Regions from separate parts of the Homo sapiens genome. Here region 1 is reported to be linked to region 2. The links are microRNA targets in miRTarBase. Many come from high-throughput screens and were not tested one by one. Region 2 holds a microRNA gene; the other region holds the end of a gene's coding sequence.

Region 1 (7,103 bases), not on the chromosome of region 2:
GTAGTTTCTGTAAGCCACAGTCCCCTGGGAATTTTCCAAATTACTGAATTGCCAATGTAGGTGGTATACCTACATTTGGGTGTAGACAGAATTTTAAAAATTACCGACACAGGGCGTTCTCAGAAACATTAGGAACAACTGCACTCTGAACTTTAAAAATGCCTAGAAATCACTGAAGGCCTTTTGGTATAAGATTGTACCAAGCAATAGGACACAACATTAATTTGCATATATTCCATCAAAATAATGTGACAAGTAAATTGGAAGTTGTCTTAATTTGTAGAAAAACGTATGTATAATTTTGCATCCTGATACTCAATAGGGTCTCTTATCCTCACTCTGACATGTGTCACTCTTCTTTGCCAAGCCAACAGAGCAGCTTCTCCAGGGCATTCTTTTCCTAGCAGGAATAGCAGTTCCTGCTTTAAGACTTAAAGCAGGAACTGGATCTTTCTTGAATTGGCTCTTTAATACATAAGCCATTGCTTTTCATTGAGAAATTTATTTCCACTTCCTACAGTTGAGATATCTAATAGGAATAAACTAATACCAAGGACAAGACCAGCAAATTCACAGCCCTTGTCTATGGTAGACATTACAAAATAATCCCAGCATGCACTGCCCCTTGAGTCTGGTGAGGTCCTAGAAATCCTCAACACAAGATTGCAGACAATCTGCTACCAACTGGAAGAAAATTTTTTTTATTCTTGTTCTAGAACTTGCTCTAAGTCTCAGATGTTATCTTTTTGGACATTTGCCTCATTCTCAAAAGAGCAACATGTGACTTGGCTGAGGGCTTTTTTTTTTTTTTTTTTTGAGACAGGGTCTTGCTCTGTCACTCAGGCTGGAGTACAGTGGGGCAATCATGGCTCACTGCAGTCTCAACCTCCCAGGCACAAGTGATCCTTGCACCTCTGCCTCCCACTCCGAGTAGCTGGGACCACAGGTGTGTGCCACCACACCTGGCTAATTTTTTTTTTTTTATTTTTTGTAGAGACAGGGTTTTACCAAGTTGCTCAGGCTGCTCTGGAACTCCTGAGCAACCTCTGTCTAGGCCTCTCAAACTGCTGGGATTATAGGCGTGAGCCACCGTGCCCAGGACTACCTTTACACTGAATTAATTAGTAAATCAAAATAGCCTTCTCTCAAGTGGCTTTCTCACCTCCCAGGAAATCTTTCCCTTTAGAATCTGTAGAAGCCTCCAGGAGCTTGTTATGCCTCCATAAAAGGAGATAATCAGCAGCTACTTGAGAAATGTTGAAGATGATTCTTTCATGTCTCCTGGTACCTATTTAATCTTCTACAATCTGTTGATTAGAATAAAAATTAGAAAGGATTTTAAACTAGACAAATGCTACATATAAAAACTATATATAAAAAAATGCTATATATATCAGCTAAGAATTTGGGAAAAACAAAACAAGTCTCCCGTCTTAGACTACTATAACAAAAATACCATAAACGAGGTGCCTCAAACCACAGAAATTTCTCATAGTTCCAGAGACTAGGAAGTCCAAGATCAAGATGGTATCTGGTGAGGGCATCCTCATAGAAGGCACCTTCTGGCTGTGTCTTTACATGGTGGACAGAGCAAGGGAGCTCCCCGACCCTCTATTTTTATAAGGGCATTAATCCCTAAGGGTTCCTTCCACCATCATGACCCATTCACCTTCCTAAAGACACTACTTACGATGGTATTACATCATCTTGGGGGACAGGGTTTCAACATACAATTTTTGGTAGAACACATTCAGACCATAGTACCTCCCTTCCAATGGGGGGAAAAAATTAAAACTTACAGGAAATAGAAAACAAACCTATGATAGGATTAACAATGCCAATCTTCAAAAATACTAACAAAATTGATAAACCCCTAGGCAAAACTCATCTGTGGAGAAAAAAGACATGTCATGAATGAAAAAACCTTTACTACAGATCCTACAGATACCCAATCTTATTCAAGAACACATGAAAAGTCCAAAAGAAAACTAGTTCACTGAAGCCAATAACATTAAAAAGAAAAACATCAAGACCAAATTGGGTTTGGTTTATTTAGTTCAGGGAGGCTAGATTGCTTTAACATTCAAAGAACAATGTAACCGCCATATTAACAATAAAGAAAAATCAAAATCATCTCCAAAGATAGAAGAAAGACTTTTTATAAAATCTGAGTATCTGTTCAAGATGTTTGAGAGCTTCCTAGAAACCTAGGAATAGACAGAGGAACTTCCTTAATATTAGAAATTTATCTACAAAGAAACTATAAACCTTATATTTAATAGTAAAATGTTGAAAACTTTACCTATTATCAGCAATGAAACAAATATGCCCCCTACCATTGCTTTTATTCAACACTGTACTAGACTGGCAATCTTAGAAATGCAATATTGTAAGAACAAAAAAGCTGTAAGATTCTAAAAGAAAACTCATTCACAGATATTATGTAGATAGAAATAGATAAATTAGAATTAATTAAGTTTAGAAAGATTGTGAATACAAAGTCAAAACAGAAAACTTGTAGTTTATATATCAGCAAACAAGATGTAACTTAAAACACTTTTCCCAATGGCTTAAAAAAAAGTAACAGCTGGGCATACTGGCTCATGCCTATAATCCCAGGACTTTGGGAGGCTGAAGTGGGTGGATTATTGGAGGTCAAGAGTTAAAGACCAGCCTGGCCAACATGGTAAAACCCCGTCTCTACTAAAAATACAAAATTAGCTGGGCGTGGTGGCATGCACCTGGAATCCCAGCTACTGGAGGCTGAGGCAGACAATAGCTTGAACCCGGGAGGTGGAGGTTGCAGTGAGCCAAGATAGTGCCAATGCACTCCAGCCTGGGCAACAAGAGCAAAACTCCGTCTAAAAAAAAAAAAAAAAAGAAAGTATCCAATACTTGAGCAAGTCTAAAAATCAGTCCTCCCAAATTGATCTATAGATCTGACACAATTCCAATAAAATCCCAACAGGCTTTTTTGTTGTTGGTAGCTTTTTGTGGAATAAATTGATTCTAAAATGTATATGGAAATGCAAAGTCCAATAATAGACCGAAGAAAAAAAGTGGGACCATGTACTAATACTATAGCAAACATTGATACTATAATTAACACAGTCTGGTATTAGCATAAATAGAACCTATATAAAATTAGTAAGAATACACAGGCAGAAATAGACATACACATATATTGGCACAATTTATGACAAAGACCCCCAGTAGAATGCCTGAAACCATGGACAGTACTCAACCTGATTGCCCTCAATAGGAATATGTTTCTGTGCATGTCTTCTGCCCACAAATTTAATGCCTTTTCCATCTTAACTGAGCACTTATCACCCCACTGTGGCTACTCTGAATGGTGGGCAATTTAAAACTTATGAATTCCTTACTTCTAGAAATTTCCATGCAATATTTTTGGTAACAAACTGTGGGAAGCGAAATTGCAGATAAGGGGGGATGTACAAGGTGATCTAGGCTCATCTTGTACATTCATTGCCCTATCCCTAGAATGAGCCATTTCTCCAAAGAGCCCCAGGTCCTTTTGTGGAAGAAGGTATTAGTAAGCAAGATCTGGCTGGGTGCCGTGGCTCACACCTATAATCCAGCACTTTGGGAGGCTGAAGTGGGAGGATCACTTCAGCTCAGGAGCTCAAGGGCCTCAGGAGCTTAAGGACTGGCTGGGCACCATGGTGACACTCTGTCTCTACTAAAAAAAGAATACAAAAATTAAGCAGACGTGGTGACACACACCTGTAGTCCCAGCTACTTAGGGAGCTCAGGCGGGAAGATCACTTGAACCTGGGAGGTCGAGGCTGCAGTGAGCCGTGTTTGTACCACTGCACTTCAGCCCAGGGCGGGGGAAAAAAAGAAAGAAACCAACCAAGATCTGGGTGGTAGGTGTGCTCATTGCCATTAGGGTATCATTGCTTTGAGACCATCTCAGTGCACTTGCTTCTTGTATGTGTTATACTTAAAAACAAAACAAACAAACAAACAAAAAACACCCAACCAAGACAACAGTATCAATAGCAAATCATGCTAAATATTTAAAATAGAAATAGTTCTTGAAATACAACATATCTAAGACATACTGAAGTGAGGCAAGATGCAAAATAACTGCATATGTATTTAGTTATTCTAAAGTAATAAGCACTAAACTCAAAGCAGGATTAAGGGAAGCCTCTTCTTTTTTTTTTTTTTTTTTTTTTTTTTTTTTGAGACGGAGTCTCGCTCTGTCGCCCAGGCCGGACTGCGGACTGCAGTGGCGCAATCTCGGCTCACTGCAAGCTCGCCTCCCGGGTTCACGCCATTCTCCTGCCTCAGCCTCCCGAGTAGCTGGGACTACAGGCGCCCGCCACCGCGCCCGGCTAATTTTTTGTATTTTTAGTAGAGACGGGGTTTCACCTTGTTAGCCAGGATGGTCTCGATCTCCTGACCTCATGATCCACCCGCCTCGGCCTCCCAAAGTGCTGGGATTACAGGCGTGAGCCACCGCGCCCGGCCGGGAAGCCTCTTCTTTTGGCAATCTCTATTTCTGTATTATCTGAATTTTATTTAACATATACTATTTTCATAATAAAATAATTAAAATCAGATTTAGTTGTATAAAATAAAGAATTTTAATTGATTCATAACAAAAGCATTAAGCAAACAAAATGTTAATTAAAAATTTTAAATAAAATATTTAAAAGAAATAAGTGCAGAAAATAGCATTAAAATGTTTGCATAATTACATACATTTTAATACTTCCACATTCTTTTGGGGACCCAGGCTTTTAAATTTTGGAAACATGTTAACTTACAGGCAAATAAAATGAATGCAGATGAATAGTTTCTACATATAATTACAATCTGGAAAACGACTTGCCTAGAGTCTTATTGCCAGTTAGCAGTTGAATGATTTTTCAGAATCAAAACAATTTGAACAATGTTTTGCTTTTTAAAGTATCCAAGAATTACACTAGAAAAATGTGTGAACATTTAAGTGTATTTACACAGTTCCATGGTCTCTCATCCACCAGCCTATGTATATTTACTAACCTTGGTTCTATTACCATACATTTTGTAAAGACTTTTGCCAGGTATCTCAGAACAAGTAAGGTGCATTTTAAACAAGCAAAAAATTAGAAAATGAAAACATCTAATCCAACTAGGCATTTTGTTAATGACATCAATTGTCAGTAACAGGTTCCCAAAGTAGTACTACCAATATTTCCATACAACAAAAATTAACTAAGTAATAGTGCAATTACTAAGTATAATTTTAATTAAATCTGATGACAGGTAAACATTTATTTTCAAAAAGATTGAACACTAAGCTATCAAATTCTGCTCTACAGAAATGCATATGGGATAATCTTATTCCTTACCATCTTGTTACAAATAAATTCTAAACATTTTCTAAAGATATTCAAACTGAGTTACTACAGACGAGTGCCTATCAAGTGAAGACTCTGTATAGAGAAGTCAGGAATTAGGCTGGGCACGGTGGCTCATGACTGTAATCCCAGCGTTTTGGGAGGATCGCTTGAGCCCAAAAGTTTCAGACCAGCCTGGGCAACACAGTGAGACCCATGCCTCTATTAAAAAAAAAAAAAAATTCAGGAATTCCCTTTACAAATTGGGCACAGAAATTACTTGCCCAAGTTTAAATTTGCCTGTTTGCTTCTGATGTGGCATTAGATAATCCTGGTCTAAGAGTGGGCTTTATAAAAGACCAGGTCACATTTCTAGAGAAAAATCACTTTGTATTTAATACTCTTACAAAGAGTCAGGTAATTTTCCAGTTATAGCTACAAAGTTTCATAATTAAACATTCAGAGTGCTAATCAGGGAATCACCCAAAGATTTTTCCTTTGAATCCCCAGATAATTTTCAACAAATTTATTCCTGACTTTTCAACTCATAAGGAACAAAACTGTGATATGTGTGTGTGCGTGTGTGTGTGTGTGTGTATGAGTGTGAGTCTCGGTATTTTTTATTTTGATATTAAATAGTTTGTATTTTATAATAAGGAGCTCTTTGAACTTATCCAGATAGTAACTCCTTTATAACTGAAATCAGCTTTAACTATTAAAATTATATACGAGGAAATTAGGGGTGTTGCAGTACTTGGTTGCAAATAACTTGCCATCTGGTGTTGGGTCAGAAAATGCTATTTCATCAGTGCTGAGAAAACAGCCAAACATGAAGCAATTCCTAAAAGAGAAGAAAAGATGATTTAATGATGGAAGCAACTTAACATTCTAATTAACATGAGCACAATTTAAGTAAATACTCTTGACTTAAATCAACCTTATTTTTAGTAAGTGAAAAAATGCCTTATATTTTAGAGACAGAAGTCTAATGATATCATTTCACAGATGGGAAAACTAAGGTCCAGAAAAAATTCTGATGAGAGGCAAAGGGAACCATCCACCTAACTCTAGGATATCCATGGTAAAGAGCAACTAATATAAGATCATATTGCTAGGCCAGGCGCAGTGGCACACGCCTGTAATCCCAGCACTTTGGGAGGCCAAGGCGGACGGATCACGAGGTCGAGACTATCCTAACACGGTGAAACCCTGTCTCTACTAAAAATACAAAAATTAGCCGGGCATGGTGGTGCATGCCTGTAGTCCCAGCTACTTGGGAAGCTGAGGCAGGAGAATCACTTAAACCCAGGAGGCGGAGGTTGCAGTGAGCCGATATCTCGCCACTGCACTCCAGCCTGGGTAACAGAGTGAGACTCCAACTCAATCAAAAAATAAAAATAAAAAAAAGATCATATTGTTAATTAAAAGCCAAAGATAATTAGAACCAAAAAAAATCAATCTTAAGCAGTAACTATATATATATATATATAATATATATATATATATATATATATATTTTTTTTTTTTTTTTTTTTTTTTGAGACAGAGTCTCACTTTGTCGCCCAGGCTGGAGTGCAGTGGCACGATCTCTGCTCACTACAAACCTCCGCCTCCCGGGTTCAAGCGATTCTCCTGCCTCAGCCTCCCGAGTAGCTGGGATTACAGGCATGCACCACCACACCCGGCTAATTTGGTATTTATTTATTTTTTTTTAGTAGAGACAGGGTTTCTCCATGTTGGCCAGGATTG
Region 2 (7,122 bases):
TTTACGTTAAATATGTGTGTTGAATTACCGCAATAATACAAGACCAGATCAACTATACTTGTCAGGTCAGAATGAAAATCTAAGAAGCGCATCTTGAATTTTAAATTTTTTTCAATTTGATTTTTCTTGTCAAGCCTGGTTGTGGGGGGGGAAGGTCAAGTCTTAAACTGGTCTCACCACCAATGTTATCAATTGTCAAAAAAAAAGTCAAATTGGGCCAGGCGTGGTGGCTTATGCCTGTAATCCCAGCACTTTGGGAGGCCAAGGTGAGAGGTTCGCTTGAGCCCAGGAGTTTGAGACCAGCCTAGGCAACAAAGCAAGACCAGCATCTCCCTCTCTCTCTCTCTCTTCTCTCTCTCTCTCTCTCTCTCATATATATATATATATATATGTATTTTTTTTCTTTCTTTCTTTTTCTTTTTTTGAGACGGAGTCTTGCCCTGTCACACAGGCTAAAGTGAATGGTGTGATCTCGGCTCACTGCAACCTCTGCCTCCCAGGTTCAAGCATTTCTCCCTGCCTCAGCCTCCCGAGTAGCTGGGATTACAGGCGCCCACCACCACACCGGGCTAATTTTTGTATTTTTTAGTAGAGACGGGGTTTTCTTATGTTGACCAGGCTGGTCTTGAACTCCTGACCTCAACTGATCCGCCTGCATCAGCCTCCCAAAGTGCTGGGATTACAGGAATGAGCCACTATGCCCAGCCCATCTCTATATTTTTAAACAAATTATACAACAAAAAAGTAAAATATCACATTGGATATTTTTTCTTTATTCTTTGTTTTTTTTTTTTTTTGAGACAGAGTTTTGCTCTTGTTGCCCAGGCTAGAGTGCAATGGCGCGATCTCGGCTCACCACAACCTCCGCCTCCCGGGTTCAAGCGATTCTCCTGCCTCAACCTCCTGAGTAGCATGCACCACCACCCCGGCTAATTTTGTATTTTTAGTAGAGACGGAGTTTCTCCATGTTGGCCAGGCTGGTCTTGAACTCCCGACCTCAGGTGATCCGCCCACCTCGGCCTCCCAAAGTGCTGAGATTACAGGTGTGAGCCACCGTGCCCAGCGGATCTTTTTTCTTTTCTTTTTTCTTTCTTTCCAGGGATGGGGTCTTGCTCTGTCACCTGGGCTGGAGTTCAGTGGCAGGATCAGGCCTCACTGCAGCCTTGAACTCATGGGCTGAAGAGATCCTCCCACCTCAGCTTTCCAAATTGCTGAGATTACAGGCTTGAGCCACTGCCTGCAGTCCTCTTTCAAATGCACTTAAAAATCGTCTTTGACTATACTCTTTGTTGAATGTTGATTAAATTCAATTGCACTAATAACATTTTTTATATTCAAAAATACAAACGTTGGCCGGGTGCGGTGGCTCACGCCTGTATTCCCAGCACTTTGGGAGGCCGAGGCGGGCAGATCACCTGAGTTTGAGAGTTTGAGAACAGCCTGACCAACATGGAGAAACCCCGTCTCTACTAAAAATACAAAATTAGCCGGCGTGGTGGCACATGCCTGTAATTTCAGCTATTCGGGAGGCTGAGGCAGGAGAATCACTTGAACCTGGGAGGCGAAGGTTGTGGTGAGCCGAGATCGAGCCACTGCACTCCAGCCCGGGTGGCTGAGGGAGACTCCGTCTCAAAAAAAAAAAAAAAAAGTCAGCAATGAACTCGCTGTGCTGGCCCAAGGGCAGGAGAAGAAAGCCGCCCTTAAAGGAGAAATTTGCAAAGACAAAATGAGGTGATGAGAAAAAGCCGAGTTCTAGGAAATACCCGAGAGATCATCCAGGTGGTTCACAAATAGCAGAAAATCCAGGTGCAGTGTGAGAGGAGTGAGTAGGTTAGATAGGAATCTGGATGGCTGAGCTGTAAGGACATAAGCACTGACCTCCCGCAACCTTGACAAAGATCAAAGCAAGAATTTTTTTTTTTTTGAGATGGAGTCTGGCTCTATCACCCAGGCTGGAGTGCAGTGGCGTGATGTGAGCTCACTGCAACCTCTGCCTCCTGGGTTCTAGCGATTCTCGCCAAACATGCTATTTGCTGTCTCATTTCTATCTCTCGCCATCCTTTGCAGCAAATGCTGTACATTTTCATTGATGAAGGAACTAGGTTTAACCAGAAAGGTTGAGCACGTACTCCCGCAGCTGGCTAGGATTACAAATGGGAAGGAAACCCTGGCCTCCTGGGGCCCCAAGTCTTCCCCTTCCTTGAGTCATTCATTATTTTGAGCACTTACCATTTTCAAGCCCCTCCTCACCTCTCCAACACCCACCTTTTTGAGTTCCTCTCTATGCCTCAAGGTCAAAGGAACTCTAGTGGTTTCATTAAATAAAATCAGAAATGTTTCCGCTTTTTTATCAAAGTTGCTCTCAAAAATGTTCACTGCCGCACTGTTTTTTTCTTTTCTCCCTCTCTTTTTTTTTTTGAGACTAAGTCTCACTCTGTCGCCCAGAATGGAGTGCAGTGGTGTGATCTCGGCTCACCGCAACCTCCACCTCCAGGGTTCAAAGGATTCTCCCACCTCAGCCCCCTGAGTAGCAGGGATTATAGGTGTGAGCCACACCGCACCCAGCTTTTTTATTTTTTTAAAATTTATTATTATTATTTTTGAGATGGAGTCTCACTCTGTCACCCAGGCTGGAGTGCAGTGGGGCGATCTTGGCTCACTGCAACCTCTGCCTCCTGGGTTCAAGCAATTCCCCTGCCTCAGCCTCCCGAGGAGCTGGGACTACAGGTATCCACCACCACGCCGAGCTAATTTTTGTATTTTTAGTAGAGACCATGTTGGCTAGGATGGTCTCGATCGCTTGACCTCGTGATCTGCCTGCCTCGGCCTCCTGAAGTTCTGGCATTATAGGCATGAGCCACTGTGCCCAGCCTATTTATTTATTTTTTGAGACACGGTCTCACTCTGTCCCCAGGCTGGAATGCAGTGGCACAATCTTGGCTCACTGCAACCTCTGCCTCCCGGGTTCAAGCAATTCTCTTGCCTCAGCCTCCCAAGCAGCTGAGATTACAGGTGCACACCACCATGCGTGGGTAATTTTTGTATTTTTTTGGTAGAGACGGGGTTTCGCCATGTTGCCCAGGCTAGTCTCGAACTCCCGGCCTCAAGTGATCGTCCGCCTCGGCCTCCCAAAGTGCTGGGATTACAGGTGTGAGCCACTGCGCTCTGCCAAAATACTATATTTAAATATTTGTTGAGTGGATGACTGGTGGAATGATTTTCTTCTGGTTATTTCTCTGTGTTTTCCAATGTATTTATAACGAATACATGTTGGCGTTACTAGTAATAGGGATCACCTAATTTCTATTTGAATCAGTGTTTGAAAAAGTTTATGAAGGTGTGTCTGACTAAGGCAAGCTAGGATCAAAGGGAGCAGGGTGGCTTGGGGCGGAGACCAGGGGGAATGAGAGGGTGGGAAGGGGTGGGCTTTAATCCTATCAAAGTTGAGTGGGCTCTCACCCTATATAAGAACGCAGCTGCAGTGAACCTTGTTCTTTCTGGCAGACCTGAGGTGTGGACGTATCATTGGCCTCTGTGAGTATTGCTATGTTATTTTATTTTCTTTCATTTTACTTTATTTTTTAGGGTCAGGATCTCACTGTCGCCCAGGATGAAGTGCACAGGTAGGATGATGGCGCCTTGCAGCCTCGACCTCCTGGGACTCACCCTTTTAGCCTCCAGTAGCTGGGACCACAGGCGCGCACCACCATTCCCATGTGCGTTTTTCTGCTTTTTTTTTTTTTTTTTTAGGAGAGATGGGGTTTTCTATGTTATCCAAGCTGGTCTCGAACTCCTGGGCTCAAGAGCAATCCTACCACCGTAGCCTTCCGAGTAGCTGGGACTACAGGCTTGAGCCACTCCGCCCAGCCGGGCTGTACTTTTGTTCTATTTCTGTGATTTTTTTTCAGTCTTAAGGACGAAGGCCCCACTGTCCCTCACACGTGTTCCTTCCTACTTGCATTGTACTCAGTCCTCATGGCTTGCATCTGGAGGCTATGGGCGGGGGAGTGCTTTGAATATCTATACGTGGAAAGCCTTGTTTTTTACTTTTTAAGAAAGGGTCGTTAAATTCGTGCTTTGTAGACCTTCAACAGCTCATCAAGGGCTACTCTCCACCTCCTTGCTTAAAAGCCTCTTCTGATGGGTAAGTGCTTCCACTTGCGATCGCCGCCTTGCCGCATCCCCTCAGCCTGTGGCACTCAAACTGTGGGGGCACTTTCTGCTCTCTGGTGAAAGTGCCGCCATCTTTTGAGTGTTACCGCTTGAGAAGACTCAACCTGCGGAGAAGATACCATTTTGATTGGGTGAGGGGGCGGGTAGCAGGATGGCCCTAGACCCTGCCTATGGCCGTTTCCTCGTGATATAAATTTCTTGGCCGGGGCTCTTGCAGATGGAGCTGCTCACCCTGTGGGCCTCAAATGTGGAGCACTATTCTGATGTCCAAGTGGAAAGTGCTGCGACATTTGAGCGTCACCGGTGACGCCCATATCAACGGATGCCGTGGAGCTCGGTCTTCTGCAGGAACTAAAGAGCCTGTGGTTTCGATTCCCAGCCGGAAACTGTCTTGGGTACAGGTCCCTTACAGCGTCTGGCTGTAATGGCTCCGGAAAACCTGGGGAAGGGAAGGGGGCCTCCTGGGCTCTCACCTGACACAACTAAGGGAATCTGGGTTAGATGGTGAAAGGAAGAGAAGGTTCAGAGGGCGGCTGTGCGCCTGCGCCGGGCGCGGCGGCTCACACCTGTAATCCCAGCACGTTGGGAGGCCGAGGCAGGCGGATCACGAGGTCAGGAGATCGAGACCATCCTGGCTAACACGGTGAAACCCCGTCTCTACTAAAAATACAAAAAATGAGCCGGGCGTGGTGGCGGGCGCCTGTAGTCCCAGCTACTTGGGAGGCTGAGGCAGGAGAATGGCGTGAACCCGGGAGGCGGAGTTTGCAGTGAGCCGAGATCGCGCCACCGCACTCCAGCCTGGGCGACAGAGCAAGACTCATTCTCAAAGAAAAAAAAAAAAAAAAACAGCAGCTGTGACCAAGGGGCTGTATGCACAAAGAAAGGAATGCTTTTTGCTGTTGGTGTTATAATTGATATGTAACTTTCCTCTTCCCCCATAGCAAGCAAGTTTATTGCTGACATTTAACATGTGCTTGGATGATTGGAGGCCAACCTCTTGTAGGCAAGAAAGTCACAGTGATGGCAGATCCTCGCGAGGAGCTCATACTGGGATACTCAAAATGGGGGCGCTTTCCTTTTTGTCTGTACTGGGAAGTGCTTCGATTTTGGGGTGTCCCTGTTTGAGTAGGGCATCACGAACCATCCTGCTTCAAGGGAGCCTGCGGGTCTGACTGCAGCTTCAGCTATGACCTGGAGTTCCCGGGCTTCTCTGCGGGGCACCAGTCTGTATGCTCCATTTTAGATAATAAAAATTGGCATATTCTGGGGTGGGCAGGATACGGGGTTCACCTGCAGATGAACAGGGCAGGAAAAGCTTGATGGGGTGTCGGGGGAATCTGGTTGGCCTTAAAGGGAATTTGGGGTCCTGTTCCTGAATTTGGTAGGCAGCATGCATGTAAGGCTTGAAGTGGGTTTGGCCAGAGCATGGGCTGGAGTGCTTCCACCCTGCTACACGGACAATGCCACAGTCTCACTTTTCCTAACTTTTTTTTTTAATAAAATGTGAACAACATCATGTGTTTCTGGTCTATTGGGTTCCTCTGCCACCCACAAGTGCTGGGATTACAGGCATGAGCCTCATGTCTGGCGTTACTGAACCTTCTTCTATGACCCAAGTACATTGCCTAAAAATACTTGTCAGTATTTTGTGCTTCCCTTCTACCCCTGCTAGAACTTAGAGTTATGCTCTTTGAGAGTTCTGCTCTTTAAACTTCAAACAAGTTTAAAAAGTAAGGCCGGGCACAGTGGCAGCACTGCCGAGGCCGACGCAGGCTGATCATGAGGTCAGATCAAGACCATCCTGGCTCACACGGTGAAACCACATCTCTACTAAAAAATACAAAAACATTAGCCGGGCATGGCGGTGGGTGCCTGTAGTCACAGGCTGAGGCAGAAAGGGCATGAACCCGGGAGGTGGAGCTTGCAGCCAGCCGAGGTTGTGCCACTGCACTCCAGCCTGGGTGACAGCGATAACTGTCTCAAAAAATAAAAACCACCCAGGCTGAAGTGTGGTGGCACCATCACAGCTCCCTGCAGGCCTGAGCTCCCTAGATCAAAAGATCTTCCCATATAAGCCCCCCCTCACCCCACCCTTAGTAGCTGGCACCACAGGAGTGTCCCCGCCATGCTCCACTAATGTTTAGTAGAAATTGGGGTCTCATACATTGGCCAGCTTGGTCTGAAACTTAGGGGGAATCAAACATCCCTCCTTTAGTAGAGATGGGGCTTTACTGTCTTGCCCTGGGTGGCCTCCCTGGGATGATGGGTGTGAGCCACAGTGCCAGGCCTAAGTTCATATTTGGAAGGTTTTTTTGCTTCAGATGGTCTCGTGCTCTCGCTCAGGTTGGAGCGCAATGGCGCAATCTTGGTTCACTGCAACCTCTGCCAGCTTAAGCGATTCTCCTGCCCCCGCCTCCCAAGTAGCTGGGATTACAGGCATAAGCCACCACGCCTGGCTAATTTTTTGCATTTTTTAGAGATGGGATTTCTCCACGTTGGCCAGGCTGCTCTGGAACTCCTGACCCCAGGTGATCCACCCACCTCGGCCTCCCAAAGTGCTGGGATTATAGGCGTGAGCCACCACGTGGGGCCTTCAGTAGGTTCTTAGTTGCTGTTTGCCCTATCACTGGTTTCCGGGTCTGCTGGCCACTATCCCCTGTAAGTTTTCCTATCCCCTGTAGGTGTTCCAAACCCTTGCGGCTGCTTTGCCCACTCCACAGTATCTGAACTGAAGTAAGATCTCAAATTCAAGGGAGTTTTGTTTTGCTATTTGTACCCGCAATTCATAAAGCAGTTGTAGCCTCTGTCCCAATACCGCCACCACTGGTGGGGAGTCCGCCACGGTAACCAGTAAGACTTCTCTTTATATTTGACCTACCTGGGCCTCCTGTCATCTTTTCTACGGGCAGCTTGGGGATTGTTAGTTGAGGGTTTTTTGTTTTTGTGTTT

The links. Region 2 holds the annotated microRNA hsa-miR-371a-3p (AAGUGCCGCCAUCUUUUGAGUGU, at 4,234-4,256, shown strand). A microRNA usually pairs through its seed, bases 2 to 8, with sites in the 3' UTR of a target mRNA and lowers its output. Matches are read on the target gene's strand: a 7mer-m8 pairs with bases 2 to 8, a 7mer-A1 pairs with bases 2 to 7 and ends in A, and an 8mer does both.
Region 1: the mRNA of ESCO2 is a reported target of hsa-miR-371a-3p. The part of its 3' UTR that is shown has no 7-base or 8-base seed match.

What each region holds. Positions count from the first base shown.
Region 1 is chr8:27,802,398-27,809,500 of GRCh38, reverse strand. It overlaps ESCO2 (establishment of sister chromatid cohesion N-acetyltransferase 2), which reads right to left. Exons shown (of 11, transcript NM_001017420.3): 11 at 4,185-6,195. The coding sequence ends at 6,063. Among named protein-coding and RNA genes, the nearest start is that of ESCO2, 31 kb to the right of the region's middle.
Region 2 is chr19:53,783,483-53,790,604 of GRCh38, forward strand. MIR371A (microRNA 371a) reads left to right here and starts at 4,193; the gene lies at 4,193-4,259. It overlaps MIR371B (microRNA 371b), which reads right to left and starts at 4,260; the gene lies at 4,195-4,260. MIR372 (microRNA 372) reads left to right here and starts at 4,408; the gene lies at 4,408-4,474. It overlaps MIR373 (microRNA 373), which reads left to right and starts at 5,223; the gene lies at 5,223-5,291. It also overlaps LOC124904767.